4 linked regions of the Homo sapiens genome follow. The protein of the gene in region 4 purifies or fractionates together with the protein of the main gene of each other region. This does not show direct contact. Each region holds a gene or a part of one and is shown on either strand. Other genes may lie near its edges.

Evidence for each region.
Region 1: the proteins of PCSK1 (region 4) and ACADSB purify together in Homo sapiens (affinity purification with mass spectrometry; one large-scale study listed by BioGRID and IntAct). This does not show direct contact.
Region 2: the proteins of PCSK1 (region 4) and HS6ST1 purify together in Homo sapiens (affinity purification with mass spectrometry; one large-scale study listed by BioGRID and IntAct). This does not show direct contact.
Region 3: the proteins of PCSK1 (region 4) and BDH2 purify together in Homo sapiens (affinity purification with mass spectrometry; one large-scale study listed by BioGRID and IntAct). This does not show direct contact.

Annotation. Positions count from the first base shown.
Region 1 is NC_000010.11:123,043,441-123,047,006, forward strand, and holds part of ACADSB (short/branched chain specific acyl-CoA dehydrogenase, mitochondrial isoform 1 precursor), read left to right. Parts: intron 1-952; coding exon 953-1,045; intron 1,046-3,566. UniProt on the Homo sapiens protein: Short and branched chain specific acyl-CoA dehydrogenase that catalyzes the removal of one hydrogen from C-2 and C-3 of the fatty acyl-CoA thioester, resulting in the formation of trans-2-enoyl-CoA.
Region 2 is NC_000002.12:128,308,842-128,312,407, reverse strand, and holds part of HS6ST1 (heparan-sulfate 6-O-sulfotransferase 1), read left to right. Parts: intron 1-3,566. UniProt on the Homo sapiens protein: 6-O-sulfation enzyme which catalyzes the transfer of sulfate from 3'-phosphoadenosine 5'-phosphosulfate (PAPS) to position 6 of the N-sulfoglucosamine residue (GlcNS) of heparan sulfate.
Region 3 is NC_000004.12:103,086,285-103,089,850, forward strand, and holds part of BDH2 (dehydrogenase/reductase SDR family member 6), read right to left. Parts: intron 257-3,566; coding exon 196-256; coding exon of another isoform or gene 92-195; exon of another isoform or gene 1-91. UniProt on the Homo sapiens protein: NAD(H)-dependent dehydrogenase/reductase with a preference for cyclic substrates. Catalyzes stereoselective conversion of 4-oxo-L-proline to cis-4-hydroxy-L-proline, likely a detoxification mechanism for ketoprolines.
Region 4 is NC_000005.10:96,430,389-96,434,466, forward strand, and holds the start of PCSK1 (neuroendocrine convertase 1 isoform 1 preproprotein), read right to left. Parts: upstream 2,861-4,078; 5' UTR 2,655-2,860; coding exon 2,475-2,654; intron 1,773-2,474; exon of another isoform or gene 1,734-1,772; coding exon of another isoform or gene 1,695-1,733; intron 1-1,694.

The sequences.
Region 1 (3,566 bases), on a different chromosome or scaffold from region 4:
CACGTATACTTTATAAGCTTGAGACTTGTGAACCAAATGGGGCCGCAGAGAAGGAAGTCTGGTGTCAGTGCACTAAAGGCCACAAGATGGGGGTGTTGCTCAGTGAGAGCGGAAACAGCCAGGCTATTAAACGTGAGCAGCAGAAGATCCAGATAGTTAGTGCTGATGCTGGAGAACTCCCTGTAGGTGGGGCAGGTGGTGTCGGCTTTTCCACCACTCATCACAGAGCTTGATCTTTTTTTTGCATGGCTGTGGGGAGTGAGGGGGAGGATGTCTTTACAGATGTCACTGGGGCCTCATTACTTCACCCCAACTGTTTTCCTCATTCTTACTTTCCCATTTCTTTCTCCATTCTTCCCTGCTCTCTCCCCCAACTACCCATATTACAAAACTAAGTATAGTTTTTTATTATTCTTAATTCTTTATTTTTTTAAAGTATGAATAAGCATTTTAGTCTGTTTCTTCTCTCTTCCTCTTTCTTGTGCATACACCTGTGTACACACATGCACACACACATATACCCCACCGTTGATTTTTATGAGGGTGAATGGTCTCAACAGCAGAAAGGCTTACTACACTTGTTTTTGCAAGTATTTGCAGATCTTTGTAGTTCCTAATATGTTATCTCACACTGTAGCCTACAGATAAGAATTGGGGGGGAAAAGTATTAATTTATGTTATTGATGAATTCTATGAGATTCCCTTACTCTAGATTCACTCATCCATTCAATACCTGTGCAAGGCTCTGGAGGATGCAATCATGAACAGCATGGACTTGAGTCCTTTTCCTCAGAGAGCTGTGGAAAAACAGCGTAGAGGGAGACACAGATGCCGGCAAGTTCTGTGAGAGGGCTAGCACACGAATTGAGAGTCTATGTGTACTTACAAATATATAATCAAAATGAATCATGGAAAATGAAACTGAGAAATAAGTGCACATTTGTATTTTCAGGTTCCAGAAGCCAATATCTTGGGACAAATTGGACATGGCTATAAGTATGCCATAGGGAGTCTCAATGAAGGTAGAATAGGAATTGCTGCACAGGTAAGTCAGATTTAAACTCTTCCATGATGTGAGTCAATTAAACTGTGAAAAGAAAAAAATGCAATGAGACCAATGAATATTTGGAAGCTTATGGACACAAGATGGCACCGTTCCCTTACATGAGGGATAGAATGGCTTATTATTTCTTTCAAATTCCCTTTTGGTCAATTATGTAAGTGTCCATAGAACCAAACAATGGCTTGGTGGTAACAGTGTTTCTGCTTTGAGAACATTAAAGTATTATCTAATACCTGAACCGATAGCTTTTCAAATGTATTGTAAATTAAATATGGCACTTTAAAAAAAATCAACTTTTCAAAGCATGAAATTCATTCTGGAAGGAATTTTTTACATTAAGAATAAATAATATTCCTTCCACTGTGTAGTAAAGATATCTATAGTTAATAAAAGATTTGTTGCTTACTGTTTTGCATGTGAAAACTGGGCAAGTTTTTTGGCGGCACATGAAATAAAATAGCCACAGTTAAGTAGATACATAAAATGAGAACTATTCAAAATTTTTTTTTACCAAATTTGGCTTTTATAATGCATATTGCATTTTTCTATTAAGTAATATCAGTTATTTTCCAGATTAACAAAATGAATAAGGTCTTTGGCTTTACTTTAGTGTCAGTTTTGTAGAGTGTATATATATATATATATATATATATATATATATATATATATTTTTTTTTTTTTTTTTTTTTTTTTGAGATGGAGTCTTGCTCTGTTGCCCAGGCCGGAGTGCAGTGGTGCGATCTCGGCTCACTGCAAGCTCCGCCTCCTGGGTTCATGCCATTCTCCTGCCTCAGCCTCCCGAGTAGCTGGGACTACAGGCGCCCGCCACCACGCCCAGCCAATTTTTTTTGTATTTTTAGTAGAGATGAGGTTTCACCATGTTAGCCAGGATGGTCTCAATCTCCTGACCTCGTGATCCACCCGCCTCGGCCTCCCAAAGTGCTGGGATTACAGGCGTGAGCCACCGCGCCCGGCGTTTGTAGAGTATATTTTTAATCAGTGATTATACAAAACTCAAGAACTTAGAGCTTTTCAGTTTTGAAGATGTTACATATAAGCTATTGGAATAAATATTAGATTATTACTCTAGATTTTTTTCTGCTGCTGTTACTTTGCTAACTATTTTTAGACCAAAACTTAGTCTAGTTTTCCTACAATGCTTGACAGTGTGTCACTAAAGAATATTGTTTTATCAGTTCTCTTAAAAGTTTTTCTGTGATTCAACTTAGACATGACATTAGAAACTGCAATACTAGAGCTCATTTTTTTCAGACATATAAATAATATAGATGTTCTGGCAATAAAATACACAGCCTGGGCTTCAGTTTAATTACTCCAAGTTATATAATAACCTAATTAAAAGTTAAGATCAGGTAGTTACTATCTCAGTGGATACCTTTGAGAGGAAGAGGCACACGGAGTATAACAGTGAACTGAAGGCATCTGTCCTCGAAACCTTGCAGGCAGAGAGAATTCAGTTTTTCAGTGTTTGTAGTAGAAACATTTTACTGAGGTAGAAAAGCCCATTTTGATGGATAACTGATTATTTCAGTCTTCGTGTCAATATAGGGTATTATTTATGTACAAATTTTAGCTGTAAGGGTATAGTGACATCATCTTATCTCACAGCCAAGAGTGCAGTGAGTCTGCTGCCTCATTTGAATTTGGGGTTTGTGGTTTTCTTGTGCCTTTAATTTTTAACATATTATTCTGTTCTCTAGAGAGTTCAGAATAAAAGACTAAAAGAAAATGTGAATGAATACTAATGAAATAAATTGATAAGTCTGCTGGGCATTTCCCCCAAAAGCTTTAGCTATTGATTTTCTAAAACCATAATTTGACATAATTACTGATTTAGTGGCTACCTAATGTTGAAATTTAGAAACGATTTCTAAGCTTGAATCATATAATAGATATGAAAGTTGGTTAGCAGTGAGACAGTTCAGCTAAAATTGTCACCACGTCCTGTGTAAATTAATGTTTTTACTAGATGCTTTCTATCCATTGTTCTCAACCCTAGCTGTGTATTAAGTCACTAAGGAGTTTTACAGAGTTGAGGTTTAGGTCACACTCCTTCACCTACTCTACTCCCAAGATTTGGATTCAGTCATTAGGCCTGGGTATCAGTATTGTTTTAAATCAGATTCCCCAAATGATTCTATGGTACAGCTCGGATTCAGAACCACTGCTCTCTTATGTTCTAATGCCCTCCCATTGAAGCTCTCATTAATCCTAATCATATACAAAATAGACGGAAAGGTAGAAAGTTAAGAAGTGACCTTCCATATTTTACTTCTAGAAGAACTGGAGGGCCTTCCTCTATAGCCTTCAAGGCCAGTTCTGAGCAAAACTTCTATGGCTCATTTTATACCTGGAGAATCAAAGCTTAAGGAAGATTCCTAAAGAGTAATCTTAACCTAAAAAGGTTGTGTGAACACAGCCTTGCTGGGAGATTTACCTCTGCTAGAATTAAATGTGCTCATATTCACATGAAATCACTCAA
Region 2 (3,566 bases), on a different chromosome or scaffold from region 4:
TTGGAATGGGTCATCTTGTTTGGACCCAACACTCCCCCAAGACAAGTATATGAAGAGCAGCCCCATTTTCCACACAAGGAAGTCAGGCCCCAGAGAAGGTGGAGAATGTGTCAGTCCCTCAGCCTGGAGGGCCAGGAGCTAGCATGTGGACATCTGTCTGTCTGTCCTGAAGGCTGTATGCCGCACCCAGCCCTCTGCTCCCAGCAACCCCTGCATGCGCATGGAAGGCTGTCTGCAGGTGGGGGCGATTGCCGCTGGCCCAGACCAGCCAGATGTAGAACACTAGGGCTTCTGAGACCTGGGCAGACATGGGCAGTTTCACATGTAGGCCTGTGTCGTTGCGTTTACTGGAAGACACCTGGCAGCCTTCACTCAGAGCAGAAGGACAGGCATCATGCCTGGGCTCTGGGCTCTGCAAAGGTAGTGCTGGCAAGGCTGCCTGAGAGTCGGCCCCTGGCAGCAGAGACTGCCCATGGCGGTGCTTGGCTCCTGGCGCAGTGTGGCCACCCCTTCTGCCACCTCCCCCATAAGATTGGGCTGTTTTCAGGTACTCCTCTGGTCCTGCACCACCGATGCCACCACCGGCCCAGGGAGGATCAGCCCTGCAGGAGGCAGTGCTGTGAGCCTGTGTGGGTGCAGGTGGGTCTAGGCCATCCCTCTGCTCCAGTGTCCTTGCTCTGCCCCAGTGAATGCTGGAGGGTGAGGAGATGGGAAACCCAGGAGTCTCCCCAACCCCTCAGCTTCCCTCTCTGGGTGCCATCACCATCCCATGTGGCATTTTGTGGGGCTGCATACCCCCTCTATGAAAGACTGTGGGGTGTTTCTAGGTCAGACCTCAAGCATCACGGAGGCAGCAGGACTGGGCTCAATCCCCACTTGGTGGTAGCGTGTGGTGGGTCTTTGGGTTTGAGGCGGGAAGAGCATGAGAAGCCGAGCTCTGGGGAGCAGTTACTGAGTGGTAGCATGTGGGGCCCAGTCAGATGGGAGCCCCACTGGAAGGGCTGCATGATTCAGGCGGGAGGCAGACTCGGGCCATCCCCTGCCAGCACTTTTCGGGCACTTCTCTGCAGCCACCTGGACACTCACTGGCACCTGCTCTCCTCTCCTTGAGGCCCACTCCACAGCAGTATTTATAGGTGAGGTGACATTTTGTTTGCAAGAAGGTTTTCATCTCTTAAGACTGTTCTTGCCTTCTCAGAAACTCAGTTGGCTCTGTGAAGATTTGCTGTCTGTTTTGGGTTTGGGTGGGGTATGTTATGCTGAAAAAAATAGTCCTAGACCTAGGGGATGAGGTTGCTCCAGCCAAATGACAGTGAGCTGGTGGTAGCCAGAGGTGTGGGCTGCAGTGCCCTGAGGGAGTGGAAAAGCCTCCCACACACAGGGTTTTGCAGGATGAGCGGGGTGTGGAGTGGAAGCAGCACTCAGAAAGCACAGTTGGGTTTCAGACACATCATGCGAGACCCCGCCACTCACAGCAAGGGGGGGCAGTGGAGATGGGACGGCATGAGTGGAGAGGGGCCCCTGCAAGCAGGCCAGTTGCTTTCTGACTGTGGGACTTGTGGCCTAATCTCTTTGTTCCTTTCCTGAAAGTGCCCCTTTCCTGATAGGGCATTGTCCCAAGTCCCCAGCTTGCAAGGGATGTTGTTTTGGAAAAACATGGCAGGTACACGCCCACACAGGAGTGTTCAAGTGCTGATCCCAGACCACCCAACCCAGGGTGGAGGCTGTTAGAGGACATTTAGGATCCACAGGTGGGCAGAGGGAGGATGTCCAGCCACCAGAGACCACACACATCCTACCCCAGCCGTGGTGAAGATGGGGCTGTTTTCCTTGACCATGGAGCAAAAACCATCCAGGACAGCTCTCCCCCTCCATGCCACCAGTTGCTCCTGAGCCAGCTCTGTGGGTGCTGGGAGCTGCGCTAAGGATTTGCACCTGTCCCCACCAGCTTGTGGCCTTCTGCTGCCGCGGTGCCTCTGCCCTGAACTCCCTCTAGGGCTCAGGACCTTTGGGGCCTCACACCTACCCCACTGTTGGTCCTTGATTCCTTGACTCACACAGCGTGTGGTCTGGGGCTGGGGCTGGGGCCCAGCTCACTGCGGGGGGATGCCTGTGGGGGTGACACGCCGCAAGTTCCACGGGGCCACCTCGGGAGGTCTTGGGTCCTCTCTGTGCAGACCAGGCGCTGAGGCTGCGGTGGAGGGCAGGGAATCCATAGGGATTCAGCTGCCTGCTCAGGCCCTGGGCTGTGTGTTGGGTGGGCTTCTGGAAAGCTCTGCTGGGAGTCCAAGGAAGAGAGGAGTGCCCTGGGCAGCCCCTCCTACCTTGTGGCTGGAGCCGGTGGGTCTCATGGGCCCAGATAGATACCTGTCTGAGCCTCAGTCTTCCCATCTCTAAAAGGGGGGTGGCAGTCTGCCATTTGGTTCTGTAGAGGAACCAGTGACTTATTAACTGTGACCGTGGTGACCGCATGATCCCTCAGCCACGGACTGTGTCCATGTCTTATGGGAGCCATGGCCACTCATAACCCCTTAGCATTCTGCAGCCTAGTGCAGGCCCAGTTCCTCATCTGGAGAGCGAGCCGTCAGCAGCTGTCCGCGTGCCATGGGGAGACTGACCGCGGGGCCAGGGCTTCAGTGAGAGGCAGCTCCCGACAGCCTGCACCTGGCCTGCCTTTGAAGGCCACACGTGACCAGCACAGCTGCCTAGGATTATTTACACAGAGAACGTTAAAAGGCCCAACAGGAGGGCCATCAGAGCAAATCACTAATTGTCTGGAAAGATACAAACTGGAGAGATTGAAACTCTGGAGTTAATTGTTTACGAAGCTTTGAAGGCCACAGAGGTCAGTGGCCGTGGGTGACCGCCCCCGGTGGTCATGGGCAGGGGCAGGGGCCTGTTATCTCCCTGTGACAGGGCCTCCTGCTGGGGCAGGCCTGGTCCTTGTCCAGGATCCCAGCTGTTCCCTAGGAGGGGCTCTCCACTGGTCAGCCCAGGCCGCTGCTCAGAAGCTGTATCAGGTGGACATCTCTGGGGCCAGCCCAGTTTGCATTCTAGCTCTGGCCCCATTCCTGCCTGGAGAAGTTGGGAACATTCAACCTCATTTTCTTTTCCCACCTCACGGAGTGGTAGGAGATGAGAGTTCACTCTGTAAGCTCCACACTATCCTTCACCCTCCACAGCAAACTAGGACAGAAGGTTCTATGGGTAACCCAGCAACAAGGAGGGCAGGTGAGGCTGGCCAAGACCCACCTCGGGGCTGGGAAACCCCGGGACCATACCAGGGGTGTCAGCAGAGCAAAAGAGAGGCCCCAGGCTTGCAGTCAGACCAGCTGGGCCAAATCCTGGCTTTGCATCTCACAGGCTTCTGCAGCTCAGGTTCCCCATCTGTAAAATGGGCATACTCATAGTGCCTGTGCAGGAGGTAGACAGTTGGAATTATACCCACAGTTCCACTGTGGCCTCTGTACTATAAGAGGCTAGAATCTGACCCATCTGTCCTGGAGACAGGGAAGAGACCTCCAGAGCCAGCTAGGAAGTCAGCTCTTGTTCTCACTCCATGAATT
Region 3 (3,566 bases), on a different chromosome or scaffold from region 4:
TTTAATTTTACCACTGGCTCACATCGAGAGCAAAAGATCTGTGGTTAAGGAACTTAATACCAATTTTGAAAAAAGCAGTTTTGAAATCATTTCAATACTTGAAATTATAATCTCTGCTATGCCTGTTCCCAAACGCAGAGCTCTTAATGATGTGCGTGTATGAGCATCGCAGTCCTCGGAAGGAGACAGACCCACCTTTGACGCTGGAAGCCACAGAAGACATGTTGATAATATTGCCAGATTTCTGAGCAAGCATCTGCCAAAACAAAACAAATACAAAAAAAAAAAAATCCACTTTGTGGGCTAAAATACTACCTTTTAAAAAGATTTGCATTTTCTTAGGGTTTGCAGAATGAATTTAATTACTGTATTAGCTAGTCACATTAAGCACTATTAAGCAGTCTTAACAGTGAACCCAAAACACCTCATCAACTATTGCTGGGAAATGATGGCAATGTGACTGCACTCACTGGCATTTCCCAGGGGGATTACCACCTTCCCATGGTACAAGAATGTCAGCAAGACTACGAGTGAATGCTGACTTAAATGAAATGTGAATAAATGTTGTTATTGTGTGTTACTGATGTTGGGAAACTTACTCCATTCAACACATAATTTTTGAATACCTACTGAGGCCAGGTATTGTGCTAGGTCCAGGAGATTACTGCCTACAGGAGGCAACCAGTCTGGTTAGAGTGGCTCACATAATCCACATCCAGCCACAGCAGAGACCTCCACAGAGATCTAACAGCAGGGTGAGGGCAGAAAGGGAGCAATTCAGGCTGGGCGACACTCAGAGGGGACCTCCTGAGAAGGAAGGATATGGGCTGAATTTTGAACACTAGAGTATTAGTCAGAAAAATAAAAGAAAAGGATGTTTTGAGGAGTGGGTACACAGGTATAAAGGTTCCATCGGGAACTGGGAGGAGGGGCTGGGTCTGGCTGGAATGCAGGGTGTGGAAGCAATGAGGCTGCAGAGGTCAACAAGGGCTGAATTTAGAACCTGGGTTTTACCCTGAAGGTGATGCAGTGACACTGAAGGGTTTAAAGCAGAGAAGTGGCATGTTCAGACTTGGGGATTGCAAGGATTACTGTGGTGCCCAGAGACTAGTGGAAGCTGATGCAGGCTTCAGGAAAGAGTGATAAAGGTGGAGCTGCAGAAATGTCTATGGGTAGCTGAGGAGGAGAGGGCTGAGGCAGGATGGGCAGGACCTTGTAGATGGTTGCTGCAGGGATGGTGGGCCTCACCAATTTAGGGCAGTGTTTCCTAAGAACACCTTCTTCAGAATTCCCCCACTAAAGTGTGAATTTATTAAGATGAGGGTCTTTGGCTGTTTTGTCCTCCTAGACAGTGTACACAGTAGGCAGTCAATAAATGTTGATGAATCAGAATCTCCTGAGGTGCTAGTTTAAAACACAGATTGCTGGGCCCTGTCCTATAGCTAAATAAATATATAATAAAGAAAACTGCTATGAATTTAAAAATGTTTTCAAACTTTACTAATTATAACATGTACATAGAAGTCTCAATAGGCAGTGTAAAGGGCCAGAGAAAAAAAATGACTTCTGTTGGGACGAGTTTCTTTAGCAGCTTTTAGAAAAAGAGGTGTAGGAAAGGAAAAAGTAAATAATTGAATGGATCCAGGATTGGTGTGGCCAAGATGATTGATTTCTTAGGATATTCTTCTGACTTTGTTCTGAGATTTAGCTACTAATTGCCCCTAAAAACAGAATCTAAACTAACCCCAAGGCACTATGCTGAATGGAGTAAGTGGATACAAGGAGAGGCTGACTGTAACCCAACCAAGCTAAGGAAGACAGCAGGGGAAAAAATAATGTTTAACTTAATTGTGTGTTTTATATAATAAAGAGGATCATAATGAAATGGGGTTCTCATAAAAAGTGTCAAGAATGTTGGTCAAGTGTAATGGTGTTGAAAAGTAAGCCTTAAAATTGTTCTTTCTTATCCAATTTAGCAAATAGCATTCCCCATTTAAAATACATATAGAATACATATACCCCAATTTAATACATAAAGATGGGTTATTATGTAGGTTCAATCTCTAGTCCTCTCTAGAAATGCAATATTATCTCAGGCAAAACCTTAGAATAAAGCCACCTAAGAGACATTACATTAGTGCTGCCCCCTAACACTTGCACTATCCATTCAACCAAGTTCAACCGAGGTCCCTCTGCTGCTTCTAGAGCCCCTAGTCAGTACCTGTTCCCATGCTGCCTTCCCAGTCCAGGTCAGGAGCTGTCGTCATGGTGTCAGGCTCTCCCTGGCTCCCCATGCAATAGCCTTCTCTGGCAGGCATGACTATAAAGTCAAGTGCCTGGTACATAGTACTGCTATCTAGGATTGACCTCCCAGAAGCTTAGGTAGGGGCTAGAAATACCCCTTAAGAGTCCCTGGAGCTGTATCTAGTTAGTCTTACTCTGACCCAGCCCTTCTGTCTCCATTGGCCAGAGCTCAGCCCCTAACCCTGGTGGAACCTGGCCACTTGGGTCTCCAGTGGTTCCTGCTGGACTAACAACCTTGATTCATTTATTTATTTGACAAATGTTTGTGGAGCACCTCTATACGCTGAAGACTCTTCTAAGACACAGCAAGGTGGGGGAAAAAAGCAAGCAAACAAACCAACCCAAATAACAAAGATATCCCCAAATCTTTGCCCTAATGGATCTTCTCTTCTGGTGGAGCCTGGATTCTGCATTGACCTCTTCTTAAAGTATTTTCAACTTGTTCTCTGCCTTTTGACTGATCTTCCAGTCTTGGAATGCTTTCCTGTGTATCTATCCATGAATAAAAATTTCCTATGAGTGTTCCTATGTTCTGACCAGCTGACCTTCCAGAGCTGCCTAGACTCCAAATCCTAGCTTCCCCTGGAAAGTTCTAACATGGGATATGTGTGTCATAGTTAATGATACAGAGGATCATAGATAATTATGGCTGGAAGTGATTGTGTAACCTATCATCCTCATTTTTTAGCTAAAAGAAATATGTACTGAGAGGGTACAAGTGCCATCTCTATGGCACATGGCCAATTAGGGGCAGGGCGCAGACTGCACCTAAGGACTTCTGATGATAGAGTCCAAGACCAGGATTCGATTTTGTCAAGGTCACTTTAAACAAGAGGCACTAATACCATATTCCTGCCATTAACATCTCTTGGGATTTTTTTTTAAACAAATCTGTGTTTTTGGCCCACATGGATAATTGTTAAGATATTGTAAATCACAAGCAAACTCACTAGTTTGCAAGTTAATGTTTGTATATTTTAAAAATTAACACAAGTTTACATTTCAGCTCCACTGTACTCCACACCTACTTCCTTTACTAAAATTTGTAAAGCATTTTAGAGCCTGGTTTTGCAAATGAGTCTCATGCATGTGCAACAGTCTTACCCACGATGACCTAAGCTTTCCTCCTATACCACAGTCTCTGCTCTACCCCTGTAACCTATGCAAAGGATCTGTCTTCAAAAATACATTCGTGTTCCAAATACTATAGTTTCTCATAAACTCCAAATAGGCTAAAAAATCAACTTACATTAAAAAAAACA
Region 4 (4,078 bases):
CCCAGAGAATTTTAAAATAGAGAAGCTTAGGCCCTGCTCCAAGCCTGAATCTCAGTGAATCTTCCTATAAGCTGTGGATGGAACTGGGGAGAGAAATCAGCAGCCGCAGAAAAAGATCACCAGTGCTTAGCTCTGTTTTCTCTGCTGTCAACTGGTTTTTCTTCTTGTCACTACCTTAATCCAAGCTTTATCCTGAGGCAATAAGGTACCCAATATAGTAATGCTAAATTAGTGTAATTTTAGTAATATTAAACAAAAAGAGAAATAAGCAGAACCAGGAACGTGCTATCAGCCTTCTACAAAGAATTATTATTCTAATAAAATAATTTTGTTAAGTTTGTTTTAAAACTTTTGTTAGTAATGCCATCTTAACTAAAAATGGTTAGAGGAAAGATAGTATTGTAAATCATATATAAATATAGATGGTTTTCCCCCACTATTTGTTAATGCTTTTGTGACTATGCTATCCCTTACTCAAAGATCCTCCCAAGAATGATGATGTATTGTTTTTTACTATTAAGATTTATGTTTATTTATTTTGAAAAGCAGTTTTCACATTGAATGGTCTAGGTTTAGATGCATGCCTAGAGCTAACAGGTGGGAAAAAGAAGAGAGATTTAGTTTTTGCTGTCTTCCCCAGTCTCCTCCTACACGGTTACCAGTGCTATTTAGCCTTTCAGTAGCTGCTCAAGGAATACACAATTAAATCCCCAGTGTCCACCCCCATAGGTCATACATGATTTGTATGATGTCCACAGTACCCACCAGCACAATTTCCTCTGCTACTCATACCCTCTTTGGGTCTCAAAAATTCCTAATAATTGCGTGCAATTCCCAGACTTACTACTAAACTGTATTATGTCTCACTGTTTTCCCACAAGCTGTTTTCTATGCCTAGACTGTCTTCTCCGATCTCATTATGTGCTCCTGGCAACCTTTGACTTCTGTTCCCGGAGCAAATGTTTTCTCCTTTGGGCAGTTTTCATTCACCCCTCCCGAATTCCCTACTACTTTCATTCCTTCAACCAATGAATATTGAGACTTCAAGTACAACTTCTATGATTACACAAATTACAATCAGTTGCAATCATTTATCTCTAAGCTAGTCTCCTCTAGATTCTTGATTACTTGAGAGCGTTTCTTTCCCTCCTCTTATTCCTCAGCCCCTAACACGGAGCCTGGCACGAGGGCAAGGGCTGGCCAAAAGCAAAAGACTCATCTGCTGCTGGGACACCAGGAAGCCAATCTGCATTGATTTTCCTTTCGGGCATTTCAAAGACAATTTGGTTTATAAAGTTGAGAATGAAGCCTCTAGCAAGAGCAGGCGAATTCCCCAGAGGGTTCGGTCTACAGAATCGCCAACGCCCCCGCCGATTACTCATCCGTGACTCCAGCGGCGTCTCAACCACCACCTCCAGAAAAAACGCGCCAAAATGTTTTACAACTGCCTCCTCCCACGCTTCAATGCAGACCAACTTCCCAAGCAGGGGGCGAGGGCTTGATTCCGAGCCAAGGAAAGGAAAGCTCTAGACTAGAAGTCACACTCCCTAGGGTCCCCTCGGAATCGCTCAGCTATAAGCAGTCTCCCACTTAATGTCTTGACGCCCACCCACCTCCAACCAGCTACCTATCGACCAAGCCTTCACTTGGACAGGCAACAATAAGCTGAAATTCCCGGGAAAACGATTACGTACTTGGCTGAAGAACAAGAAAGAAATAGATCCCTTCCCCATAGTCAGTTCGGCATCTCGACCCTGCAGTGGGACTGGCCGGGCAAAGTTATGAAGCTTGGACTTTATAAGTTCCCAGTGAAAAGCCGGAGCTCCCTAGAGAGTCGCGGGGATAGATGGTCCCGTGTCTTTCACCCACCATTTCTCCCCCCAGCTTCCCAGGCTACTCCGCGGCCTCCCAACCTCCTGGTCGCGAGTCCCAGCAGCTGGCACTCTTCCAATGCCCTGGGCGTGCCCTTACAGGCTGCCAGGGCGGACAGCCCCAAGCCTGCTTAGCCCCTTGCATCAGGACTTGGATCTGATGCTGCCATATTGAAAAGAAGGCAACAGCCGGCTCCTGACGCAGACCGCCTCAGTCCCGGGGGATGGAGCGCACTGCTTCTCCCGGGGGCGCTTGGTTGGTAAGAGCTTGAGTGTATCTCAAGTTCCCTGAACAAGCGTGGAGGGATTTTTCTTCCAAACCGCGCGGGAACGGATTTCAATTCTAGAGCGGCCAACAGTAAGCATAAGCCCTACCCAGCTGCAGCGGCTTCCTTCTGCTTGGCTGCGCCCAGCCTAAACAGTAAATAATGCAAGCTTTCTCTCTCTCCAAGCGCGACAGGGGCGAGGGCTGGAGCAGCTCCTTGCTCTTTGCTACTCTGGGCTCTGGAGAGTGCAACCTGGGGCTCCCACTTGGAAGACCGCGCTCCAGTCCCGCCAGTCCCCTGGGGCCCCAGAAAGTTTCTTGAAAGTGGAAACTCTTACCTGACCCAAAAGGTCATAGCCCAGCTCCTCGGCGATGGCCGAGGCTGCTTCCGGGCCCCCGGGGATCTCCGCTGCCCATTCATTGACAAATTGCCTTTTCGCTTTTGCACTGTTCAGTGCACACCAAGCGCAAAAGAGGACGAAAGCAGTGCACTGCAGACTCCAGGCTCTTCGCTCCATAGCTCACACACTCGCTTGAACAAGAGTGGGAAGGGAAGAGGAAAAAGAAGCAAGATAGGAGAAAAGCCAGACAGACTCCCCCTTCCCACCCTCGGGCTCTAGACCACTCCTGGCTCCTGGTTGCTCTGCGAAGAGCTAGGAGGCGCGAGAGGAGAGGCTGGGCGGCGGCGAGCGCTCAGTGAAGCGCTTCGGTCTCCAGGCTGAGTGGAGCCCCAGCCCTTCCCAGCCAGAATGGAAATGAGTGTTTACACGTCAAATCGACGAAAGCCATCTCTTGACGTCAGATCTACCTGGACTAAGATCCGAATGGTATTCCCGGCGGGGCGGAGAAGCGGCTAAAATAAGCAGCCAGGGATTAGGAAAAGGAAGGAACTGTTTGCTGGGATCAGTTAAGTCTGCTCCTTGTCTGCCCATAAATTCTGTACCGTGAGAAACATTTTCACTTTTCAAAGAGAAGTGCCCCACTTGAACATAACTACCAAGAATCAAAGGCTGGGAGTGCTTTCCCTCCCTTCCATCCATTTTCTCTGTATTTACTTTATTATCTCATGTGTGTGGCGGGGAGGGGGGGAGGCTATAGGATTCTTATAATGGCCCTTTGGGCATCAGCACCTGCTATGAAGAACAAGGCTCTTAGGTCTTTCAAAGAGAGAGGCTAGGAGAGTAAGGAGAAGAAGGGAAGCTACTACTGTCCCAATTCTGTTCTAAATTGTCTGAGAAAATTAGCATGTCTATGTTAAAGCAATACTATTAAAAATGAATTTTTAACCATTCAAGCCACCTTAGTTTACAAGTTTACTTCCCTCCTCCCCTTTGTTTCTCAACCTCAGTAAAACAATATCAGTAGTTATACTCCGATATTGCAAAGCCAGCGCCACCACCACCTTTTAGGGTGTTTATCAGTAAAATGATTAATCATGTGATTTTAAAAAAACATATTTTTAAGAATTCGTCAACAAGGGGATCTAGGATCCCAAAAGCTGTTGTGTTGATTCAGGGAGGGAAAGAGCAGTTTTTATTTACCTCGACTTTCCATTGTGCCTCAGTAGAGCTCTTCACTTTGGTGCTGAGCTGGAGCTGTGCCATTACTTTCCCATAAAATGCACAATGCCTCTTTGTGGAAAAATGGTTTCCTGTGGGAGGAGAGCAAGGAAACATCTAAATGAATTCTCCACCCCTCACCCTAGGGAAGTGAGTTCAGTCTCCCATGGTGGAGCCTATTCGAACCCTGAGGGATTGAACCTGGCGGGAGATACCAGTGCCTAGTATTCAGCACCGAGGTCTGGACAGCGACACACGCAGGACTGCCGCAGGAGCTGCTCTCTCTTCTGAGCACCAAAGACCTCCACCCTTCTGCAGCTGGCCAGCACCAAGCTGTTTTCCTTTTGATATGTGCATTTCCCTCTTTTGAACAGCAAAATAGG